Regions from separate parts of the Homo sapiens genome. Here all the other regions are linked to region 3. Evidence: fine-mapped expression QTL. A gene starts in region 3. Each other region holds a variant in brackets. All regions are shown on one strand. Distances are from middle to middle.

Region 1 (8,177 bases), 480 kb after region 3:
AAAGTCCCTTACGCCGATGCTTCCTGTGGTTCCATTCTCACCACAATGTACCCACCTGCAGCCTGCGGGCCCACTTGTCCTCACTACCCCATGCTCTGCTCCAGCCTGTTTGGTCGGGAACCACATTTCCCCATCTCCCATGCTTTCTGGCTGTTGGGGGCACTGCAGAAGACTGGAGTGTGGGAGCCAGGAGGAAGGCAGGGTGTTCCTCCTCCTGCAAGGGCCCCATGTCGTGCAAAGGCAGTGTCTCCTGCACAGTTCCATCTCTAGTTGGACATCATCTCCCTTCCTGGTCCCAGCTTCCCTCATCACCTCCACCCACTAACACGGAACCCTGTCTTCAGGAGCCCGGCAACGTCATCTCCTACTGTGTCTTCCTAACCCTAGGAGTAGCAACGGCTTCCTGCGCTGTAAGTCCCTCAGCACCTGTGGAACCAGCTTGCTGCACTGGAGTGCCGATTTTCCTGGCTGAACACAAACTGATACGATGGAGAATACTGCTGCGGGAGGCGTGTCTTTGTCATATTATTCTTTGCTTAAAAAGTCAAGCGGGCCGCGTGTGGTGGCTCACGCCTCTAATCCCAGCACTTTGGGAGGCCAAGGCGGGTGGATCACCTGAGGCCGGGAGTTCAAGACCAGCCTGACCAACATGGAGAAACCCCATCTCTACTAAAAATACAAAATTAGCCGGGCGTTGTGGCGCATGCCTGTAATCACAGCTACTCAGGAGGCTGAGGCAGGAGAATCACTTGAACCTGGGAGGCAGAGGTTGTGGTGAGCCAAGATCATGCCATTGCACTCCAGCCTGGGCAATAAGAGGGAAATTCCATCTCAAAAAAAAAAAAAAGTCAAGTGAATTGTGCATTGTATCCCATAAATTATCTGTATTTGTCCCAACATGAAAACAATGTTCCCTGCAAATCTTGGCATGAATTTGAAGCTCTCTAAAGGTGCCCCCATGTGTTCTGTGGCACCATTGCCCACAGCTTAGTGTACTGACAGAATCGTCCCCTGTAGCCATTGACTATCGGTACTAATCAACTGGGGCTGCTATCATAAAATACCACAGACCTGGGGGCTTAAACAACAGAAATGTATTTGCTCAAAGTTCTGGAGGCTGGAAGTCCAAGATCAAGATGTTGGCAAGGTTGGTTTCTCCTGAGGCCTCTCTCCTTGGTGTGCAGAAGGCCGCCTCTGGCTGTGTCCTCACATGGCCTTTCCTCTTTGTGTGCACTCCTGCTGTCTCTTCTCTTCTTCTTACAAAGACACCCATTGTATTAGATTAGGGCTCCATCCTTAGAACCTCATTTAATCCTTTTTTTTTTTTTTTTTTTTTTTGGAGATGGAGTTTTGCTCTTGTCCCTAGGCTGGAGTACAATGACATGATCTTGGCTCACTGCAGCTCCCACCTCCCAGATTCAAGTGATTCTTCTGCCTCAGCCTCCCGAGTAGTTATGATTACAGGCACCCACCACCATGCCTGGCTAATTTTTGTATTTTTAGTAGAGACGGGGTTTCCCCATGTTGGCCACGCTGGTCTCAAATTCCTGACCTCAGGTGATCCACCCACCTCAGCCTCCCAAAGTGCTGGGATTATAGGCGTGAGCCACCTCGCCCGGCTGACTTCGTTTCATTTTAATCATCTCCTTAAAAGTCCCTTCTCCAAATGCAGTCACATTGAGGGCCAGGGCTTCAACATTTGAATTTGTGGGCTGGAGAAGCCCACTTCAGTCTATAAGACCACCCTGGTCATCTTTGGGCAGAACTGCAGATAACTCATTTTCATGATAAAGATGATCATTCTGGCCACGTGCGGTGGCTCATGCCTGTAATCCCAGCACTTTGGGAGCCCAAGGTGGGTGGATCACAAGGTCAGCAGTTCAAGATCAGCCGGCCCAGATGGTGAAACTCTGTCTCTACTAAAACTATAAAAATTAGCCAGATGCGGTGGTGCATGCCTGTAATCCCAGCTACTCGGGAGGGTGGGGCAGGAGAATTGCTTGAACCCAGGTGGCAAAGTTTGCGGTGAACTGAGATTGAGCCACTGCACTCCAGCCTGGGTGACAGAATGAGACTCCATCTCAAAAAAAAAAAAAAAAAGATCATTCCTAGGTTTCCAGGCCTTTTACAATTCTGATGAGCAAAGCCATTGTCTACCCAGAAACCACTACTAAATATGAAATTGTTACCAAGAGCCCAAGAGTATCCAGTCTAGCATTCTCCTGTTTGCCCATTAGCAAAATACTTGTTTAGCAAATTGCTACACAAAGAGCAGAACCCTGGGAAGAGAAAGGTTTATTGGGGTGTAGAGGTGGCAGAACAGGAATGAGCCAGGAGGAGGGGCGTTTAGAGGAGGAGTTGTTTGGGCAACAATCTGGTAGGCTAGGCTGGGCCAGGAACGGGACTATTGGATATTCTTTTCTCATTCTTCTCCAGTTTTTTTCTCTACCCTTCTTCCCTGCTCTGGCTAGCTCCTGCTGTAAGGAGCAGTACCCCAAACAGGGACGTCCAGGCACGGTGGTTCATGCTTGTAACCACAGTGCTTGGGAAGGATGGGGCAGAATGATCGCTTGAGGCCAGGAGTTTCAGGCCAGCCTGGGCAACATAGAGAGCCCTCAACTCTACAAAAAATATATAACTTAGCTGGGGGAGGTGGTGAATGCCAGTGGTCCCAGCTACTCAGGAGGCTGAGGTGGGAAGATGGCTTGAGCCAAGGAGTTTGAGGCTGCAGTGAGCTGTCATTGCACCACTGCACTCCAGCCTGGGCAACAGAGTGAGACCCTGTCTCTCAAAAAAAAAAAACAACCAATCAACCAACCAAACAAGGAAAGATCCTCTCAGGCACTATCCTATAGGGGGCAGGTCACATGTCTGCTTGCTCTGGGCACAAGGTCATTGCCACACCTCTGTCTGGGTCCATCTCTTTCAAGCCAATCAATCGTTCCCAGCAAAGAGAGTGCTTACCTTCAGGCATAGCCCTGGCCTCTGACGCTACAACAAACAAGAGCTTTCAGTCTTGTTGAGAAACACAGTTCCCTCCTTAACTATTTTGGTAGGGTTCTTTTAATTCAGAACTTTAGAAAGCAAACAGAAGAATACCTTGAATCCCTAAATGAAATTAACCAAAGTCACTGTTTTGGGAAAATAAACCGAATTGAAAATAATATAAAGTCATAAACACAATGTAGAGATAATGTTATCTTCTCACTGGAAGATTAATTACCTTAACCAGGGATGACTAGGGCTAGGTCTCTGGCCCAGTACAGTCGTTTTGATACAGCCACAGCCCATACTGGTCTGGTTGCTTCTCGCTATTGGTGTTTATTGCAGAGACATAATTGTTTATGGATTTTCTGCCTCCATTAATTATGTTTCTATTTCCACCATTCCTGTTCCAAATTTCTATTGTAGAAATGCTAGAGAACTCTGTAATGCAAATGTGTTTGGTATGAAGCTATAGAGTACAAGGGGTTTTACAGGGCTGCCCAGATTTAGGGAGGGTCTTCTCATATCACATAGAAACTTCCCATATCACATAGGAACTCCACACCCCAGCAATATTTTATTATCAAACAGTCCCTCTAGTAAAACAGCAAGGGTCAAATGCTACACTTTGTTTCAGACAGGGTCTTGCTCTGTCACCTAGGCTGCAGTGCAGTGGTGCGATCTTGGCTCAGTGCAACCTCAATTTCCTGGGCTCATGCGACCCTCCCACCTCAGCCTCTCAAGTAGCTGGGACTACAGGTGTGCATCATCATGCCCAGCTATTTTTATTTTTATTTTTTGTAAAGATGAGGTCTCACTTTGTTGCCCTGGCTGGTCTCAAACTCCTGGCCTCAAGCCATCCTCCCGCCAAGGCCTCCCAACATGCTGGGATTACAGGTGCGAGCCACCATACCCAGCCTGATTTCATTTTCGACATTCATTTTGTCTTTTATACCTTTAAATCAAGTTGGGTAAAGTAAAATATGTGGATTTCATGTTTTAACCAACAAAAGGTGTGGGGTGACAAGAGCAAGAAGCATTTGTTAAGCATGAACACCATGCTAGGTGTCTTACTTATGTTGCCTTTATCTAATAATGCCTATAATGCTAAGAGACATTACTGCTGTCTGACAGCTGAAGACACTGAGGTCCAGGAGGGTGACAGGCAAGCGGGGAGCAGAGCCGGGACAGGAGGACAGCATGATCCAAGTCAGAGCCCGTGTTCTTTTATTATCCCAAATCTGGAACAACAGATCACTTCTGTTTCCTTGATGGACTTAAAAAAGTTTTTGTGGTGATGGTCCGGATCCAAGATGGCCGAATAGGAACAGCTCCAGTCTGCAGCTCCCAGCGTGATTGACACAGAAGACAGGTGATTTCTGCATTTCCAACTGAGGTACCTATTCATCTCATTGGGACTGGTTGGACAGTGGGTGCAGCCCATGGAGGGTGAGCCAAAGCAGGGTGGGGCATCGCCTCACCCAGGAAGTGCAAGGGATCAGGGGATTTCCCTTTCCTAGCCAAGGGAAGCCATGACAGACTGTACCTGGAAAATCGGGACACTCCCACCCTAACACTGCC[C/T]TTTTCCAAGGGTCTTAGCAAACAGCACACCAGGAGATTATATCCTACGCCTGGCTCAGTGGGTCCCACACCCACAGAGCTTTGCTCACTGCTAGCGCAGCAGTCTGAGATCAAACTGGGAGGCGGCAGCCTGGCTGGGGGAAGGGCGTCTGCCCTTGCAGAGGCTTGAGTAGGTAAACAAAGCAGAGGGGAAGCTCGAACTGGATGGAGCGCACCATAGCTCAACAAGGCCTGCCTGCCTCTGTAGACTCCACCTCTGGGGGCAGGGCACAGCTGAACAAAAGCCAGCAGCAGAAACCTCTGTAGACTTAAACATCCCTGTCTGACAGCTCTGAAGAGAGTAGTGGTTCTCCCAGCACAGTGTTTGAGCTCTGAGAACAGACAGACTTCCTCTTCAAGTGGGTCCCTGACCCTCATGTAGCCTAACTGGGAGACACCTCCCAGTAGGGGCCAACTGACACCTCATACAGCCGGGTGCCCCTCTGGGACAAAGCTTACAGAGGAAGGATCAGGCAGCAATATTTGCTGTTCTGCAATATTTGCTGTTCTGCAGCCTCCACTGGTAATACCCTGGCAAACATGGTCTGGAGTGCACCTCCAGAAAACTCCAACAGACCTGCAGCTGAGGGACCTGACTGTTAGAAGGAAAACTCACAAACAGAAAGGAATAGCATCAAAATCAACAAAAAGGACATCCGCACCGAAACCTCATCTCTAGGTCACCATCATCAAAGACCAAAGGTAGATAAAACCACAAAGATGGGGAGAAACCAGAGCAGAAAAGCTGAAAATTCTAAAAACCAGAGCGCCTCTTCTCCTCCAAAGGATCGCAGCTCCTAGTCAGCAATGGAACAAAGCTGGATGGAGAATGACTTTGATGAGTTGAGAGAAGTAGGCTTCAGAAGGTCGGTAATAAAATTCTCCAGGCTAAAGGAGGATGTTTGAACCCATCACAAGGAAGCTAAAAACCTTGGAAAAAGATTAGATGAATGGCTAACTAGAATAAACAGTATAGAGAAGACCTTAAATGACATGATGGAGCTGAAAACCATGGCACGAGTACTACGTGACACATGCACAAGCTTCAGTAGCTGATTCGATCAACTGGAAGAAAGGGGATCAGTGACTGAAGATCAAATTAATGAAATAAAGTGAGAAGAGAAGTTTAGAGAAAAAAGAATAAAAAGGAAAGAACAAAGCCTCCAAGAAATATGGGACTACGTGAAAAGACCAAATCTATGTTTGATTGGTGTACCTGAAAGTGACGGGGAGAATGGAACCAAGTTGGAAAAAGCTCTTCAGGATATTATCCAGGAGAACTTCGCCAACCTAGCAAGGCAGGCCAACATTCAAATTCAGGAAATACAGAGAATGCCACAAAGATACTCCGCGAGAAGAGCAACCACAAGACCCATAATTGTCAGATTCACCAAGGTTGAAATGAAGGAAAAAGTGTTAAAGGCAGCCAGAGAGAAAGGCCAGGTTACCCACAAAGGGAAGCCCATCAGACTAACGGCGGATGTCTCAGCAGAAACTCTACAAGCCAGAAGAGGGTGGGGGCCAATATTCAACATTCTTAATGAAAAGAATTTTCAACCCAGAATTTCATATCCAGCCAAACTAAGCTTCATAAGTGAAGGAGAAATAAAATCCTTTACAGACAAGCAAATGCTGATATTTGTCACCACCAGACCTGCCTTACAACAGCTCCTGAAGGAAGCACTAAACATGGAAAGGAATGACTGGTACCAGCCACTGCAAAAAGATGCCAAATTGTAAAGATCATCGATGCTAGGAAGAAACTGTATCAACTAACAGGAAAAATAACCAGCTGACATCATAATGACAGGATCAAATTCACACACAACAATATTAACCTTAAATGTAAATGAGCTAAATGCCCCAATTAAAAGACACAGACTGGCAAATTGGACAAAGAGTCAAAACTCATCAGTATGCTGTATTCAGGAGACCCATCTCACACGCAGAGACACACATAGGCCCAAAATAAAGGGATGGAGGAAGATCTACCAAGCAAATGGAAAACATAAAAAAGCAGGGGTTGCAATCCCAGTCTTTGATAAAACAGAATTTAAACCAACAAAGATCAAAAGAGACAAAGAAGGCCATTACACAATGGTAAAGGGATCAATTCAATGAGAAGAGCTAACTATCCTAAATATATATGCACCTAATACAGGAGCACCCAGATTCATAAAGCAAGTCCTTAGAGACCTACAAAGAGACTTAGAATCCCACACAATAATAATGGGAGACTTTAACACCCCACTGTCAATATTAGACAGATCAACAAGACAGAAGGTTAACAAGGATATCCAGGACTTGAATTCAGCTCTGCACCAAGCAGACCTAACAGACATCTACAGAACTCTCCACATCAACAGAATATACATTCTTCTCAGCACCACATTGCACTTATTCTAAAACTGACCACATAATTGGAAGTAAAGCACTCCTCAGCAAATGTAAAAGGACAGAAATCACAACAACCTGTCTCTCAGACTACAGTGCAATCAAATTAGAACTCAGGATTAAGAAAATCACTCAAAACTGCACAACTACATGGAAACTGAACAACCTGCTCCTGAATGACTACTGGGTAAATAACGAAATGAAGGCAGAAATAAAGATGTTCTTTGAGGCTGGGGGTGGTGGCTCATGCCTGTAATCCCAGCACTTTGGGAGGCTAAGACGGGCAGATCACCTGAGGTCAGGAGTTCAAGACCAGCCTGGCCAACATGGTGAGACCCCCGTCTCTACTAAAAATACAAAAAAAATTAGCCGGGCATAGTGGTGGGTGCCTGTAATCCCAGCTACTCGGGAGGCTGAGGCAGGAGAATCACTTGAACTTGGGAGGCGGAGGTTTCAGTGAGCCAAGATCACAGCATTGCACTCCAGCCTGGGCAACAGAGCAAGAATCTGTCTCAAAAAAAAAAAAAAGAAAAGATGTTCTTTGAAACCAATGAGAACAAAGACACAACGTACCAGAATCTCTGGGACACATTTAAAGCAGTGTGTAGAGGGAAATTTATAGCACTAAGTGCCCACAAGAGAAAGCAGGAAAGATCTAAAATCGACACCTTAACATCACAATTAAAAGAACTAGAGAAGCAAGAGCAAACAAATTCAAAAGCTAGCAGAAGGCAAGAAATAACTAAGATCAGAGCAGAACTGAAGGAGATAGAGACACAAAAAACCCTTCAAAAAAATCAATGAATCCAGGAGCTGGTTTTTTCAAAAGATCAACAAAATTGATATACCACTAGCAAGACTAATAAAGAAGAAAAGAGAGAAGAATCAAATAGACACAATAAAAAACGATAAAGGGGATATCACCACCAATCCCGCAGGAATACAAATTACCATCAGAGAATACTATAAACACCTCTATGCAAATAAACTAGAAAATTTAGAAGAAATGGATAAATTCCTGGACACATATACCCACCCAAGACTAAACCAGGAAGAGGTTGAATCCCTGAATAGACGAATAACAGGCTCTGAAATTGAGGCAATAATTCATAGCCTACCAACCAAAATAAAGTCCAGGACCAGATGGATTCACAGCCAAATTCTACCAGAGGTACAAA
Region 2 (8,151 bases), 41 kb after region 3:
CCCAGGAACCCCCTTCCTCCTGTCCATTCAGCTAGGTCTGCACCAATAAAATGGGCCTAAGGCGTCGCAGGTGGTCACTAGTTCTGGACTCGAAGTGCCTTGGGCGCAGGGATGACCCAGGCTTCTTGTATCCCATCACCGTCTAACAGTGGGCACATGGGCTCACCACACATGCGTTTGCTTACCGAGCCCCCTGCAGGGAGTGATTGCAGTCTTCCCTTTCCATTGCCTCTCAGAACTCAACTGTTTCTCATTCTTTCCGCCCAGCAGCCCTGGATACTTAATAAGTACTTTGAAGTGCTTCTTCATACTGGGGACTGTCTTTCCTTTGAGAGGGAAGAGTATTAGTAAACCAGGTTCTGTGTGCCCCTCTGTGCAGGACCGGAACAGGGACCTGGCCACTGCCCTGGAGCAGCTGCTGCAGGCCTACCCTAGAGACATGGAGAAGGAGAAGACCATGCTGGTGCTGGCCCTGCTGCTGGCCAAGAAGGTGGCCAGTCACACGCCGTCCTTGCTCCGTGATGTCTTTCACACAACAGTGAATTTTATTAACCAGAACCTACGCACCTACGTGAGGAGCTTAGCCAGAAATGTAAGAACCCTTGAGGTCAGCTCCTTCCCTGCCTGCCGCCCATGCCCTTTTCTCTGGAAGGTTGAGAAGCCCAGCGGGGCCCCTGCCTCTGATGCCAGCACAAGGGTTACAGGCTGTCCTGCTCGGGTTTGGTTTTGCTGTTGTGAGCTAGAAAGCTGTGTGTAAAGGTGACGAAGAGCACCCAGAGTCCTTTGGAGCTTTAGCAGCTTACTATTGGAGACATGCTCCATTCAGAGGGGTGGCAAAGGCTCACGTCACACTCCTGGTGGGGTCCTCAAGGCACAAGCAGGTACAGAGTGGAAGGAAGGGGCTGGAGGGCTCACAATGAGCTTTTCAGACCTCTCACCTTGCCATAAAAAATAAGTGTAATGTGGCCAGTGCGGTGGCTCATGCCTGTGATCCCACTGCTCTGGGAGGCCAAGGCAGGTGGATCACCTGAGGTCAGGAGTTCCAGACCACCCTGGCCAACAGGGTGAAAGCCCGTCTCTACTAAAATACAAAAATTAGCCGGGCATGGTGGCGCACACCTGTAGTCCCAGCTACTCAGGAGGCTGAGGCAGGAGAACTGCTTGAACCCTGGAGGCAGAGGTTGCAGTGAACTGAGATCGCACCACTGCACTTTAGCCTGGGCGACAGAGCAAGACTCCATCTCAAAAAAAAGGTGTAATGTGAACCAAAACGAGTAGTCAAAAAAGGGGGGGAACTGTCTGAAATCTTTTCCAGAGCACATCTGTCCCATAACCAGGTATTACAAGTCACAGTCTAAAGGCTGGGCATGGTGGCTCAAGCCTGTAATCCCAGCGATTTGGGAAGCAGAAGCAGTGGGATTGCTTGAGGCCAGGAGTTTGAGACAAAACTGAGCAACATGGCGAGACCCTGTCTCTAAAAAATTTATAAAAATAATTAGCTGAGGGCCAGGCGCGGTGGCTCACGCCTGTAATCCCAGCACTTTGGGAGGCCAAGGCAGGCGGATCATGAAGTCAGGAGTTCAAGACCAGCCTGGCCAAGATGGTGAAACCCCGTTTCTACTAAAAATACAAAAAAAATTAGCTGGGTGTGGTGGCGGGCGCCTGTAATCCCAGCTACTCAGGAGGCTAAGGCAGGAGAATCGCTTGAACCCTGGTGGCAGAGGTTGCAGTGAGCCGCAATCACGCCACTGCACTCCAGCCTGGATGATGGGGTAAGACTGTCTCAAAAAAAAAAAAAATTAGCTGAGCATGGTGGCGTACGCCTGTAGTTCACGCCGTCATGGAGGTTGAGGCAGCTCCTCAGGAGGCTGGGGCAGAAGGATCTCTTTGCTTGAGCCCAGGAGTTCAAGGCTGCAGTGAGCTGATTGTGCCACTGCACTCCAGCCTGAACAAAAACAAGACCTGTCTCTAAAAACAAACATACAGTGTTCACAATGCTGCCCAAGAAGGGCCAGTTTTTGCAGCTGCCCCCATGTAGCAAAATCTGGTGCTTCTGTTTCATAGACCCAAATGGAAATTAAGTGGATGTGTCTTATTTGTAAATTTAAAAATATTAGCGAATGTTTGGGAATTTTTTTTTTTTTTTTTTTTGAGACAGAATTTTGCTCTTGTTGCCCAGGCTGGAGTGCAATGGCACGATCTCAGCTCACCACAACCTCTGCCTCCCAGGTTCAAGCGATTCTCCTGCCTCAGCCCCCCAAGAAGCTGGGATTACAGGCACACACCACCATGACCGGCTAATTTTGTATTTTTAGTAGAGATGAGGTTTCTCCCATGTTAGGCTGGTCTCGAACTCCCAACCTCAGGTGATCCGCCCACCTCGGCCTCCCAAAGTGCTGGGATTACAGGCGTGAGCCACTGCGCCCGGCCTAATGTTTGGGATTTTATGACATGTCAGAAGCATTACTTCAGGCTTTGGTTTTTAAGTAAAATAGCATCTAATCCTCTACTGAGAACTCATAAGAAAACATTCCTTATATGCTGTGGTCTTCAGTTATACAAGCATTTTAAAAACAGGAGAATGAATATAAATCTTAAATCAGGCATTAAACCCAGCTGAATTGTTGGAAGGAGGTAAGCCTGAGACCATTCCTGGACAGCTTTTACCAACACCCATGTAAAGGGGGAAAGGGTGGGCAAGACGTGTGCAGCAGTCTGTATGGACAGCTTACCAGAGACTGAGGGCTGAGGCAGAATCGTGATTCCTCTGACCCAGCAGGGGCCTCCTGACACCGTCAGTGCCTTGGAGATGTGAATACCCACCTCACCGCCTGAACGGCCTGTTTTTGCAGTTGCCCCCATGTAGCAAAAAGTAGGATGCACGGATAGGACTTCAGGGGTCTGGAGAACATGTTTTTGCATAAACCCCAGCTTTGCTCTACTGTGGCACAGAGCTCTGGAGCCTGGTTTGTGAATGAGCCTAGCTGATTCTGGCTTTTTCTCCTTTCTTGCTCTAGGGGATGGACTGAACGGACAGTTCCAGAAGTGTGACTGGCTAAAGCTCGATGTGGTCACAGCTGTATAGCTGCTTCCAGTGTAGACGGAGCCCTGGCATGTCAACAGCGTTCCTAGAGAAGACAGGCTGGAAGATAGCTGTGACTTCTATTTTAAAGACAATG[T/A]TAAACTTATAACCCACTTTAAAATATCTACATTAATATACTTGAATGAAAATGTCCATTTACACGTATTTGAATGGCCTTCATATCATCCACACATGAATCTGCACATCTGTAAATCTACACACGGTGCCTTTATTTCCACTGTGCAGGTTCCCACTTAAAAATTAAATTGGAAAGCAGGTTTCAAGGAAGTAGAAACAAAATACAATTTTTTTGGTAAAAAAAAATTACTGTTTATTAAAGTACAACCATAGAGGATGGTCTTACAGCAGGCAGTATCCTGTTTGAGGAAAGCAAGAATCAGAGAAGGAACATACCCCTTACAAATGAAAAATTCCACTCAAAATAGGGACTATCTATCTTAATACTAAGGAACCAACAATCTTCCTGTTTAAAAAACCACATGGCACAGAGATTCTGAACTAAAGTGCTGCACTCAAATGATGGGAAGTCCGGCCCCAGTACACAGGGGCTTGACTTTTTCAACTTCGTTTCCTTTGTTGGAGTCAAAAAGAACCACTTGTGGTTCTAAAAGGTGTGAAGGTGATTTAAGGGCCCAGGTCAGCCACTGTTTGTTTACAAAATCAGGTAACTAACTGCATACACTTTTTCTCTTTCCATGACATCAAGACTTTGCTAAAGACATGAAGCCACGGGTGCCAGAAGCTACTGCGATGCCCCGGGAGTTAGCCCCCTGGTAATAGCTGTAAACTTCCAATTTCTAGCCATACGCTCAGCTCATCCATGCCTCAGAAGTGCATCTGGAGAGAACAGGTTTCTAAGCATAAAAGATGAAAGAGCAGTTGGACTTTTTAAAAATTCAGCAAAGTGGTTCCCTCTCTTAGGGACAGTCAAAACCAAGTCACTTAGGTAGTACCAAAATAAATAAGGAAAAGCTTAGCTTTAGAAACAGTGCAACACTGGTCTGCTGTTCCAGTGGTAAGCTATGTCCCAGGAATCAGTTTAAAAGCACGACAGTGGATGCTGGGTCCATATCACACACATTGCTGTGAACAGGAAACTCCTGTGACCACAACATGAGGCCACTGGAGACGCATATGAGTAAGGGCACTGACGGACTCATGATTTCTTCTTACCAGATGCTTTCCTGTTCTTTAAGAGTTTAAAATCATCAGAAAGGAAAAACAAACTCTATATTGTTCAGCATGCAATACATACCACGCTAGGGCTGGCTCAATTGAAAGTGGGCAAAAGCTTACAAATACTAAAAAGAAGTGCTGCCGCGCAGTGTGGAGGCCACTGTTTGGAAATAAATCTTCCTAACACTACGACTTTTCATGTTTTGGAGTGGACTTTTAAAAAAGTTTTCCAACCACAATGGAAACAGGTTGAACCACACTGCGCCTACACATCCATCCATACGTCAGCCATTATAATCAGATTCTCACTGGGGGAGGCATTTTCTTCCCAAAGGAGCTGTATGCAGTCATCACCCGGAACTAATGGGAAAGTGTTCTTAAGCAGCAAGTGACTCTGGACCACCTCTCTCACACACTGACTCTTCCACAGCATCTTCACCTGCTTCTGTTTCACTTGAATTCATACAGTAGGCCACCATTTTATAACAGGTCTTAGTGTAAATTCTTCCAGACCAAGTCTGAGATAGTCTTGGTTGTAAAGCAAGACCGTCACCCCTTCTCCCAAAGCCAACATTATAAAAAGATTCCATTGTCTCAAACACAAATGTTCCAGTCTTGAGCACTTCCCAGCCATGGTGACTCGGGCATATCCTGGCAGTTGGTGGATTTTGCCCTGTAACACAATCCTTGTGGATATGATTCAAAGGTGACTTTAATTCAGAGAATGTGTTTTCCTTTCTGTTTTAAAAATATTTGAATTAAGTGATGGAAATTCTTTTGTTAAACATCAAAAGCTTTCTCCTTGAAAAGATGCTTGGTGTATCTGAAAGTCACGTGGGACATTTGGTGCATTCAGAAGGTCAAATCATTCCTGACCTCTCCTCTTAGGACCCAGCATTAACTGCTGCGATACTCAAGGCTTCCTTAAAGGATCACAGCACTGGCGCCTAGTTTTACTGTCCAGCAACTTTATTAGTTGTGCTAGCTGAGAATTGGAATATAGAGTCCTTTGAATGTTACGATCTTGTTTTCAAAACCTGGAGTCAAACCAATTAAGTATGGACTTAACAAAGACAATTGATGATGTGAAATGATACCACCTGTCAAGGGCATAGTTACCATGTGGATAGAAAGATGAGTCCACTGATTATCTTCAAATCCCATGTATTCTCTCTAGCACGTTGCTTCTGACAGAAAGAATAACTCACAGATTTGAAGTTTGTTCCTTTCCCCTGATGAAGAGTAGATTGGCCAAAAGGTAGATGACAGGAAGGAAGAGGAGCCAGAATGACCCACAGTGATCAGTTCAGCAGTGCAGAGCGGCAGTGCAGAGGCTCATGGAACTCACACGGAAAAAGGAAACACATGCTGCTTAAAATGCACGATAACTTAATTATCCAAATTACCATTCAATTCCGGTATTTTTGAGATGAAAGCATTTGAGCCAACACTAAATTGACCTTAATTAAGGAATGAGGTAGGAAGAGGCACTTTTAATCTGGAGGAAGAAATAAATGGAAGACTGTAATAGGAAAAATACAGGTCTAGGAAAAAAATAATTTTTTTCCTTTGATGCTGGCCAAGGACCCCTCTACATAATACAGTTCTCCTGCTGGAAAGCATCAGGGCAAACAGAGTTATTCCAAACTCTGCAACAGGGAAGACTGTACTTTGACCTTCTTTTCCTGGGGAAAGGGAACAACTAGTAATCTTTAAATGTCAAAACTTTTCTTCTAAATAGTACATTCATTAACCAGTTTCTTCTGGTGGTGCAAAGAACACTCACCACAGTGAGCAATACCACTATTCAATTTCCCCTTTGGAGAGGTGACAGCGGGGTAGAATCACCTGGAGTCAGCTGCTAGTCTTTAACTGATGACAAGGCCTTGCAAATACCCCTGAGAACAATTTCACTCTGAGCTCACAGGGAAGCAGCAGTCTGGTGTGGGCTCCTGTGGTGTAACCATCAAATGTGGAAGACCTGATGGTGTTAGTGTGTGGGGATGCCGGGCTGAAATTCAACAGCCTTGCAAAAAGAAAGGGAAGATGGGATGTGTTAATATTGTAGTGGCATGCACTTTCCAGCTCTCCATGGAGCTCTCTTTATATATGAGGTAATTGAATGTCACTATTCTGTACCATACAGCAGGTATTATCTAGCCAAGGTTATAATTACCATGAAGTGCTGTGGAATGTAGTAGGAGGCTTTTCACTGGGAAGATCCTCCAGGAGCTGACGTACTTGTGGCCATACCTGGTCAACCCTCCTAAGTCCCCAACCTCTTTGTCTGTCCAGAGGCCAAGCAATGCTTCCAGGTATTCCCCTACTTCACTCCACAGCCCCACCCTTATGATGGCATACACAGGGGAGAAGGGACGAACTCGAACAAACAGAAAAAGACCAAGAAATGCATCGTGGTGCTGTCTTCACCCCCCTCATTTAGCACTTTGTGATAACTGCTGGGACAGATTGCCTAACCTTGTCTACAAGCAAAAATATTTAATCAAGAAAGCTAATGAAAGCTCATCGGCAATGACTGTGAATTCTGTAACCACAAAGCATCTCACTCAATGTCTACAGGGAAAACAGCTACATAATTGGAAGCTGAGACCAGTCCTGGACCTAACCCTCACTCTTGTTTTTTTGTAGTAGAACATGCTTAATGTTTAAGTGAGCCTATATGGTGCCTTTGTACAAATTAGAAAAATACTTCGCTTCTCCCAGAGCCCACAGCATGGTGAGCAGAGCACAGGCTGCACGTCGGAATTTGTCCCCAGTCAGTCCTTATGCAGTAAACAACTGGCGCAACTGTTTGCAGGGGACCTGCCAATACTGCTTTGCAGTGCCAGGAAAATGATAAAAACCGGCAAAATCATTGCCTTGCCTCGCCTATGCTTGAGGACGTTAGAAAAACTAACTCTGGGCCGGGCACGGTGGCTCACGCCTGTAATCCCAGCACTTTGGGAGGCCAAGGCGGGTGGATCACGAGGTCAGGAGATCGAGCCCATCCTGGCTAACATAGTAGAGACCCTGTCTCTACTAAAAATACAAAAAAAGCAGCCGGGTATGGTGGCGGGCGCCTGTAGTCCCAGCTACTTGGGAGGCTGAGGCAGGAGAATGGCGTGAGCCCGGGAAGCGGAGCTTGCAGTGAGCCGAGATTGTGCCACTGCACTCCAGCCTGGGCGACAGAGCAAGGCTCTGTCTCAAAAAAAAAAAAAAAAAAAAAAAAGGAAAAAGAAAAACTAACAAACTCTGATTAGGTTCTTCATTCTGTAATATGGGAATAAAAGGAATACAAACAGCTATTAGAACTGTGAAGGTGAAATAAGGTATGTGAGAGCACTAGAACCGTCTCTGGCATGTTATAAATGCTCAACTAGTATTTGCTAAAATATAATTATCGACATGAATTTTTTTTAGGAAAAATTATACACCCTAAACTCAAATGAATGTCATAATTGAGAGATTATCACTAAGGGCAGGTTTTGGTGCACCAGAGAAGAGGAAACATTATTCTGGTATCCAGTATGTCGCTGAGATGTTAAACGAGATAATGCTTGTGTGGGAATTTGGGCAGAAGCTCTAGGTCGTGTCTGTTAGCAATCAGATAGCCTACAAGGCCGTCTTGATGGGTATGATCACCACCTCAAATTCTTGGAAAGATAAGTTTGTGTGGAAAGATGTAAGAAATTAAGAGAAAGGGAAAATTCTTAGCTACAAAACGTTTTATTTCTATAAAACATCTCTTAAAATAATTCAAACACTGAAATGTCCACATCTCATACCTTTCAGGAGAAAGGCAAGGAGACTACTTGCCTTACTGTCATATTATTGAGGGAATCAGCGCAAAGCCTGAGGAAATGAACAGTAGC
Region 3 (8,166 bases):
GCACCGAGCTATCATTTTATACTATTAGACTGGCAAAGGTTTGGAGGCTAGATCCTGCCCAGTGTTGGTGGGGATGGAGCAGGGCGGCCTGCAAGCCCTGCTGTGGGATTAAAGTGTACCACTGGGGAGACCTCACCACAGGCCCACCTTAGACGGGAGCTCTGTCCCTACAGTTTGGTCCCCAGATATCTCTCTAAAGAAACCCTCATTCGGGCTCAGAGCACCGTGTTTGAGGATATGAATGAGAGTGGCTCGTCATGGCGGCAAGTTGGAGGTCACTGGGGTTCCATGGTTTGGGAGGCAGTTGGGCAAAATGCAGGGCTGCCCACAGTGGGGACCCCATGGCACTGGAGGCACACGCGCAGCAATGTGGAGGGACCCAGCAGATGGAGCCGGGTGGAGAAAACGCGCCAGCTCACATCTCAGTTAAAACACACGTGCACGAGCAACAGCACACTTGCTCGTGAGACTGCCTAGGAGCCAGTCCACGGCGCGGAGAGAGCCGGCAGCGCTGTCTCATTCACTGTCTCAGTCCAGCTTCCAGCCCTGCGCCATCCTTATGCGAGAGTCCCTCAGGTGTGTGGCAACCTCAGCTCTGCACACCCAGCCTTGGACACCCACAGCGCAAACAGGGACCCTCCCAGAGCTGCCCCCAAGCCCTCCCCTGGCCTGTGTGCGGGCGTCTGAGCGGGTGGAGGCCAGCCATGGGCTCTGCTTCCCTGTGAGCCAGGGTCTGGGCTGAGTCTAACCTAGAGGCCCAGGGTGAGCGCCGGGGAGGTCACATCATTCCCGGAGTTTGGAGGGATCCAACACAGCTCCCCTGAAGTTGGCTGTGACTTGGGCCTGTCAGAAGCAGCCTGAGAGGAGGGTCGCAAGTGACCCAGACCTGGGAAGGAGGGAAAGGTTTGAATTTTGCAAAAAAAAAAGATAACTTTGCCCTTTTCGCTTGATCTTGGGGGGACAAGATGGGGGTGACGCCTCCCGAGACCGGGAGAGGAAGGCCACCTGGCGAAGCTGCAGTCCCAGCATTATCTGTATGTTAAATTGATGTTTTAAATCAGAGTTGATATCCAAGTAATTAAAGAATAACTAACAAGCACAGGGACTAGTGAGGGGCTGGGCCAGATTCTCTGCAACCCATATGGCTTCACCTACTTTCCAAACCCCCGGTTCTGTGAGGACCGAAAATGACCATCCCAGACTATTCCAGAAACAGCCTGGGGATTCTGAAAGTTTCCCAGAGCATAGGCAGTGAAAGAGAGAGAAGCTCAGCCCTTCTGGAGGGGACGGGTGGCTCAGAACAGAAGGTGGAAAGGGAGAGAAGCTCAGCCCTTCCAGAGGGGATGGGTGGCTCAGAGCAGAAGGTGGGGATGCAGTTCTGGGGGCGCCATGGCCGAGCACCACAGACCCGGGACTTGCACAACAGAAGCGGGTTTCCTCACAATTCTGAGCCGGAAGGCGGAGATAAATGCGTGGGCACGGCTGGGTTCCCCGGACGCCTCTCTCCCTGGCGCAGAGACGATGTGTTGTTCTCCCCGGGTCCGTTCCTGTGTGGGTGTCCGCGTCCCCATCAGGACACCAGTCAGATAGGAGGAGGGCCATCCAGTGACCTCACTTCACCTTAATCACCTCTGGAAAGTCCCTGTGTCCAAGCACAGTCACGTTCTGAGGTCCTGGGGGTCAGGGCTTCAACTTACGAATTTTGAGAGCATTCAAGTCAGCCCACAACAGTGGACTCTGAAATAATCTTTTAGGAACTGGACTCCTCAAGGACGCTTTAGAAAATGCCGGCCTCGTTCTGTTGCAAAGGGGTAACTGAGGAAGAGGGGCTGAATTTTCACAGGAAGACGAGCCCGGTGGCAGGAAGTGACAGTGAGAAACTGCAGCATAAAGCGGAAGCAAAGGCCGACTGTGACTATGTGGTCGCCAGCTCGCCTTCCCCGTCAAACCTTGCTGGATTTTGTGTTTCATTTTCATTGCCAAAAACATCATTCAGGTCGGGTGCAGTGGTTCATGCCTGTAACCCCAGCACTTTGGGAGGCCGAGGTGGGAGGATTACTTGAGCCCAGGAGTTCAAGACCAGCCTGGGGAACATAGCAAGACCCTGTCCCAAAAAAAAAAAAAAAAAAAAAAAAAAAAGGCCAGGTGTGGTGGCACACGCCTGTAATCCCAGCACTCTGGGAGTCTGAGGCGGGCAGATCACCTGAGGTCAGGAGTTCGAGAACAGCCTGGCCAATATGGTGAAACCCCGTCTCTACTAAAAATACAAAAATTAGCCAGCCAATCATGGTGGTGGGTGCCTGTAATCCCAGCTACTTGGGAGGCTGAGGCTGGAGAATCACTTGAACCCGGGAGGCAGAAGTTGCAGTGAGCGGAAATCACACCATTGCACTCCAGCATGGGTGACACAGCCAGACTCCGTCTAAAAAAAATTTTTAAAAAATTAGCCAGGCGTGGCGGTGCATGCCTGCAGTCCCAGATACTTGGGAGGCTGAGGCAGGAGGATCACTCGAGCCTGGGAGGTCAAGGCTGCAGTGAGCTGTGATCACACCACTGCACTCCAGCATGGGTGACAGAGCTAGATCCTGTTTCAAAAAAAAAAATAAAGTCATCATTCTCTCATGTATGTGTATATTGTTTCATTTGTTAATTAAGGTATAATTTTACATACAGTAAAACTCACCATTCTTCGTGCAGAGTTCTCACAAAAGTGTACAATTGTGTGGCATCCACCACAATCCCTGTATAGAAGAATCCCATCATCCCCGGAATTTCCCTGGACCCTTCCATAGCCCCCCAGTCCGTCACCCCCTGAATTGTTTTCTGGCACCCCGCCCCCCTTTCTTTTTGAAGTGGTTGTTTTGCAGGAAACATCACCCTCTCTCATTTTACAAATACTGCAGACAGATTTTGAAGCCCAAAGCATCATAGAGGCAGCAGATCAGGACAGGGAGGATTGAGGCGGGGAGGCTCTACCCTGACTGTAAGAAGCACTTGAGAGACCTGCAAAAAGCCAACAGGAGAGGCAGAGACTGTGGGGGCCAATTGGTACAGGTCCTGCCCTGCATGACAGGGCCAGTGGCCCCCACAGTGCTGAGGATAAAATCCAACTGCTCATCCAGGCTGCTGGAGCCTCCTGCCTTCAGGCCACCCCACTGGCCTCTTGCCCACTGTGCCCCACTGTCCAAGCTCTCGCCTGCCCTGGGAGGGGCCCCTGCAGCTTCTTGTGCCCAGGTGCACGTCCCTCTCTTTTCCCATCTGGGCGCCTGCTGACATTGTACCATGAATTTGAACACCACCCTGCAGATGACCTGGCCTCAGTCCATGAAGTTTCCCTTTCGTCTTCTGCAGGGCACCGGCCCCTAATGCCATCTGACGGTTTCCCTGCTCACAGGATCTTCCATTTGTTAGCCCCCCAGAGTGCCCAGCCCGAGTGAAGAGCATGCAGGAAACAAGCCCCTGTCCTCGTGGAGGCTACATTCCGAGAGGGGAGGTAGGCAACACACACACAAACGACTCCGTGGTATGTCATGCTGCGATGCTGGCTGTGGAGGAAAATGAAGTGAGGCCTGGTGAAAGCCAGAGGCCATGGGGCTGCCGAGGAGGAACAGGGACAGGGTAGGATTTGCTTAGAGCAGGGCAGGTCGCGTGGGACTCTGCGGGCCACTGAAAGGAACTTGGCTTTTATTCAGAGGATGTTAAAGCGTGAGTGACATCCTCTGACCTTTTATAAAAGAGGCAAGAGTCTAGGGAGCCCGGGTAGAAGTGAGGGCGTCTGGAGGAGCCACAGTGGGCTCAGGGAGTGAGCCCACGCGAGGGCGCAGAGCAACTGGACGCTCCAACAGGGCTGGTGGAAGTGCCGAACGGTGTGCATCACCTTGGAAAGCAGGCAGTTTTTAATACCATGAAGCTCGTCCAGCCCTATGATTCGCATTTCCACTCCTAGGTATCACACTCAAGAGAAGTGAAGACGCCCACAAAGGGCTCTGCAGCAGCACTGCCGGTGAGAGCTGCATCCGGGGATGCATGGACTGGCCTGTCATTCCAGCACCTTGGGAGGCCGAGGTGGGAAGCATCGCTGGAGCCCAGGAGTTCGAGACCAGCCTGAGACCTCCAGAGGTGGAGACCCCCCCCCCACCACCTCCACTAAAAACTGAAAAAGAAATTAGTTGGGTGTGGTGTGCGCCTGTAGTCCCAGCATTATCTATATGTTAAACTGATGTTTTAAATCAGAGTTGATATCCAAATAATTAAAGAATAAACAACAAGCACAGGGACTGGTGAGGGGCTGGGCCAGATTCTCTGCAACCCACATGGCTTCACCCACTTTCCAAACCCCTGGTTCCGTGAGGACCTAGAATGACCACCCCAGACTGTTCCAGAAACAGCCTGGGGATTCTGAATGTTTCCCAGAGAATCATTAGGAATTATCCCAGCGGCGCTGGAGTAAGTGGCCAACTTAAAGTTGGACGACACTGTCTGAAACAGTCGCGTAAGGGGTAAGGGTGGAAAGCCTGGTTCTCACTGCGCTGCCGGCTCCCCGCCCCGCTCCACAGCCCCGCGCCGGCGCGGGCTCCCCGGGTCCCCGCAAGCCGCCGGGGGCGGGCCGGGGCGGGCCGGGGCGGGCCCGGGCGTGGGGGGCCGAAGGAGGAAGCGCGCGGGGCGCCATAAGGAGGAAGCGGGTAGTCGACCGTGTCCGCGCGCCTGGGAGACGCTGCCTCGGCCCGGACGCGCCCGCGCCCCCGCGGCTGGAGGGTGGTGAGTGCACCCGCGCCCCTCCCGGGGTACGCGCCGAGCCCCAGCCCGTGACCCCTGCCTGCCGCCTGCCCCGGCGTGGAGCTCAGGGCCCGCCGCCCGCCCTGGGCCCGACCGCGGTGGGAGCCAGAGGAGGGGAGGCGGGGGGTCAGAGCCCCAGGCCTCAGCAGCGACCTGAGGGCCGGGTCTCTCCCGCCTCCCCTCCGCCCGGGCGCCCTCCTCGGCGCGGCCGGCAGGTCGGTGCTGAGGGTCGGGTCCGCCTCGGAGGCGGGGAAGGCTTTGTTGTGTCCTCTCCACGTGGCCTGGGGATTCAGGGGAGGGGTGCGGGGCGCGGGGAGGGGGAGGGGCCGAGGCCAGCCCCGGAGAGGAGAAAACCCGCGGGCCTGGCCGGGTGCAGGCCACCCTTGCCGGCGGATCGGAATCCCCGCCCACACCGTGGTCTTTCCAGCACCGCAGACACCTGCCGGCTCCTCCCGAGCGGAGCTCAGGGCTGACAAAGCGCGGTCAGAGCGGCCGCTTACTGGGGCTCGCCCGCTCCTTAGAGCACTGGCAATGATGTGCGGATCCTCGCTGCTGCTGCTGGGAAACTGTTGAGTGGCTGAATGACCCCAGGGGACCCTGGGAGAGCTCTGAAGCCCTCAGCCACCAAGTGGCTGGGCTGGCAAGGGTTCATTCATTCATTCAACAAATACGAATGTGCAGCGGTGCTGGGGTCATGATGGCTCGGTGGGCAGCGAGGGGCCGGGCCGGCTGGAGGAGCACAGTGCGGATTCTGTAAGTGGGCTGGGGGCTGGGCCTTCTGCGGCTGGACCGGCCTTCACCTGCAGGCAGGGTTGGGGCAGGTGAGGAGCAGATGGACCCACCCAGAGCTCTTCCACCTTCTCAGGCTTGCACCCCCTTCCTGGAGCCTTATCCACACCCTCAGTCCTCGCTCTCACTGTGGGGGAGCTGCAGAGGATGCGGTTTTTCCACATTCCATCTCCACCCACAGGAGGCTTTGAGATGGGGGGAGCTCTCCTGGGCCTGAATGTGTGCCGTCCTGGGGCCCTGCAGTCCCCTGGGAGTGATGACCGAGACCAGATTCCCTGAGCTGGGGTCTTAAGGGTGTGGGGAGCGCAGAGGGATCCTCTGGCATCAGGAGTTGAGGTAGACAGAGCTCCAGGGAGGCACTGCCGGGAGGACGACCCTGGCCAAGCCTCTGCCTGCGGCCCAGGGTGTGCGTCCCTGCCCCTTCTGCCCCTCTTGCCCAGGGAGGGAAGAGGAAATGCGGGGTCAGCAGTTCGTGGCTGGGGTTTAAAGGCAGGGATCTCCCAGGACGGGCACAGGGAGCATGAGGAAGCAGCTCGTGTCTCTGTTCATGAGATGTGAGAGTGGTGACTGAGACGAGGGGTGCAGAGACCTGCCGTGGCTGGGGCGAGGTGCTGTTAGTGCTTCTGAGGAGGTTGGGCAGGATAGACGGTGGCTGTCAGGTGGTCTCAAGGTTGTGCAGGAGCTTGCCAGAGAGGGAAGCGGGGCATGGCCCCAGGGTGGTATGGGGGATTCTAGGGGGAGGGTGCCTGGGTGGGAAGGGGTGTCGCATGCCCAGCTCAGAGGCCTTGCTTAGGGGTGCTCACAGGCTCGGCTGACGTGAGGATGCTGATCGAAGGAGCTGAGGGTCCCACTCATTTGCAAGGGGGAACTGTCTGCCCAGGAGCCCCAGCAGTGCCCAGGCCCCTGGACTGACAAGGATGGATGAGGGTGATGGAGGCGGATGGACATTTGACACTGGAGCCTGCCTTCCAGGCAGAAGGGCCGTGAGTCATCCTCTCTCCGGTGCCAAGTGGAGGGGCTGAGCAGGTCCTCGACGTGACCGAGGACTGTGCCCGTTTTTTCAGGGGACCCGGAGCGCTGGCTCTGGCTGTCAGCCCATGAGAGACCTCCCTGCAGAGCTGTGGCCTCTGGAAATGCTTCCTGTCGTTGACATCTGGTCACCATTCTCCAGCTGGGGCTGTGGAGGGCAGCACAGGCCTGGAGTGTCCCCGAGAGCAGCTGGGCGTCTGCCCCTGCCCACCCCACAGGGCCTCCCACTCACAGGGCCTAATTAGCAGCTCCATGGCTGCCATACCTGGCGGACCGCCCTCAGCGGCCACATATATCCTTGCCCCAAGCCAATGACAGGTCTGAAGAAGACACTGATGGAGCTGAAGCACAGGACAGAGACAAGCACCTGTGTGCCGGACGCTCACGGAGCACTTGATGTGTGCTGACTGGCTCACATCACGGTGGTCAGACGAGGGTAGCATCCCCATTCTCCAGATGGTGTAACTGAGGCAAGGAGAGGCTAAGTAACTTGTCCAAGGTCACACCCGAGGGAGTTGGACTTCAGGGTCTCAGCTCTGAGCATCAGGCACACTGCCCAGATTCCCCCTCCACATGTCACACCTGTTAGGCCACTGGGGGTAAGGAGCCTTTCTGTGGCCTCGCTCCCCTGTGAGCCCCTGGGAGGGAGGCAGCCCAGATTCCAAGGCAGCGAGTGACGTGTGTGGGAAAGGGGAAGCTTCCGGGGCAGGGGTTCAGAAACCTCGCAGTGGGGTTTTCCCCAAGAGCCACTGCTGGCAGGTTCCTACAGCCCCATCCAGCCCCAACACAGCCTGCCTCTTTTCCTTCCTCTTCCTCCTTTTCTCTTTCTGCCTGCGTTGGTCCAAAATGGGGAAGTTTCACATAAATGGCAAACAGGCCACAAAGCAGCTATTTCTGGAGGTGCTGCTGCCTTGCAGATTGAATTCTTGGTTGGCATTTTAGGTGTTTGTTTTCAGGATCCTTTTCTGTAGAAGAAGCCAACAACTAAGAAAAGGAGGAAGTGGCTTTGGGAGGCTGAGACGGGAGGATTGCTCGAGCCCGGGAGGTCAAGGCTATAGTGAGCTGTGATTGCACCGCCGCACTCCTTGAATCCTATCAGCTTGGCCAGGGTGGGGGTGGGAAGTGGGGTCTTAAAGGGGAAAGACCAGCCGGGCGCGGTGGCTCACGCCTGTAATCCCAGCACTTTGGGAGGCCGAGTTGGGCGGATCATGAGGTCAGGAGATCAAGACCGTCCTGACTAAGACGTTGAAACCCCGTCTCTACTAAAAATACAGAAAATTAGCTGTGCGTGGTGGGGGGCGCCCATAGTCCCAGCTACCTGGGAGGCTGAGGCAGGAGAATGGTGTGAACCCGGGAGGTGGAGCTTGCAGTGAGCCGAGATCGCGCCACTGCACTCCAGCCTGGGGGACAGAGCGAGACTCCGTCTCAAAAAAAAAGTGGGGGAAAGATCACCATCTGGATCATAGACCAGACCTGAAAGGGGGCTGGTCACTTTTAGGTACGTAGAGTAACTGGAAAGACACACTGTCCTAGTGGAAGCCGTGGGTGGCCTCTGTGGCTGCTGTGGCCCCA

Evidence for each region. PIP is the estimated chance that this variant, and not a neighbour inherited with it, causes the effect.
Region 1: its variant is fine-mapped to the expression of BID in caudate (GTEx, PIP 0.96).
Region 2: its variant is fine-mapped to the expression of BID in whole blood (TOPMed, PIP above 0.99).

Annotation. Positions count from the first base shown.
Region 1 is chr22:17,295,885-17,304,061 of GRCh38, reverse strand. No RefSeq gene overlaps it. Among named protein-coding and RNA genes, the nearest start is that of CECR3, 33 kb to the right of the region's middle. RefSeq lists enhancers at 1-106, 177-296. The variant C/T (reference allele first, on the strand shown) is at 4,567.
Region 2 is chr22:17,730,458-17,738,608 of GRCh38, reverse strand. BCL2L13 (BCL2 like 13) reads right to left here. Exons shown (of 7, transcript NM_015367.4): 7 at 7,754-8,151. It overlaps BID (BH3 interacting domain death agonist), which reads left to right. Exons shown (of 6, transcript NM_001196.4): 5 at 380-592; 6 at 3,018-4,471. The coding sequence ends at 3,029. Among named protein-coding and RNA genes, the nearest start is that of MIR3198-1, 30 kb to the left of the region's middle. The variant T/A (reference allele first, on the strand shown) is at 3,180.
Region 3 is chr22:17,770,973-17,779,138 of GRCh38, reverse strand. BID (BH3 interacting domain death agonist) reads left to right here and starts at 4,670. Exons shown (of 6, transcript NM_001196.4): 1 at 4,670-4,758. It overlaps LINC00528 (long intergenic non-protein coding RNA 528), which reads right to left and starts at 1,849. Exons shown (of 1, transcript NR_103718.1): 1 at 1-1,849. RefSeq lists enhancers at 1,335-1,814, 7,202-7,341 and silencers at 4,542-4,641, 4,662-4,711, 4,732-4,801, 4,832-5,161.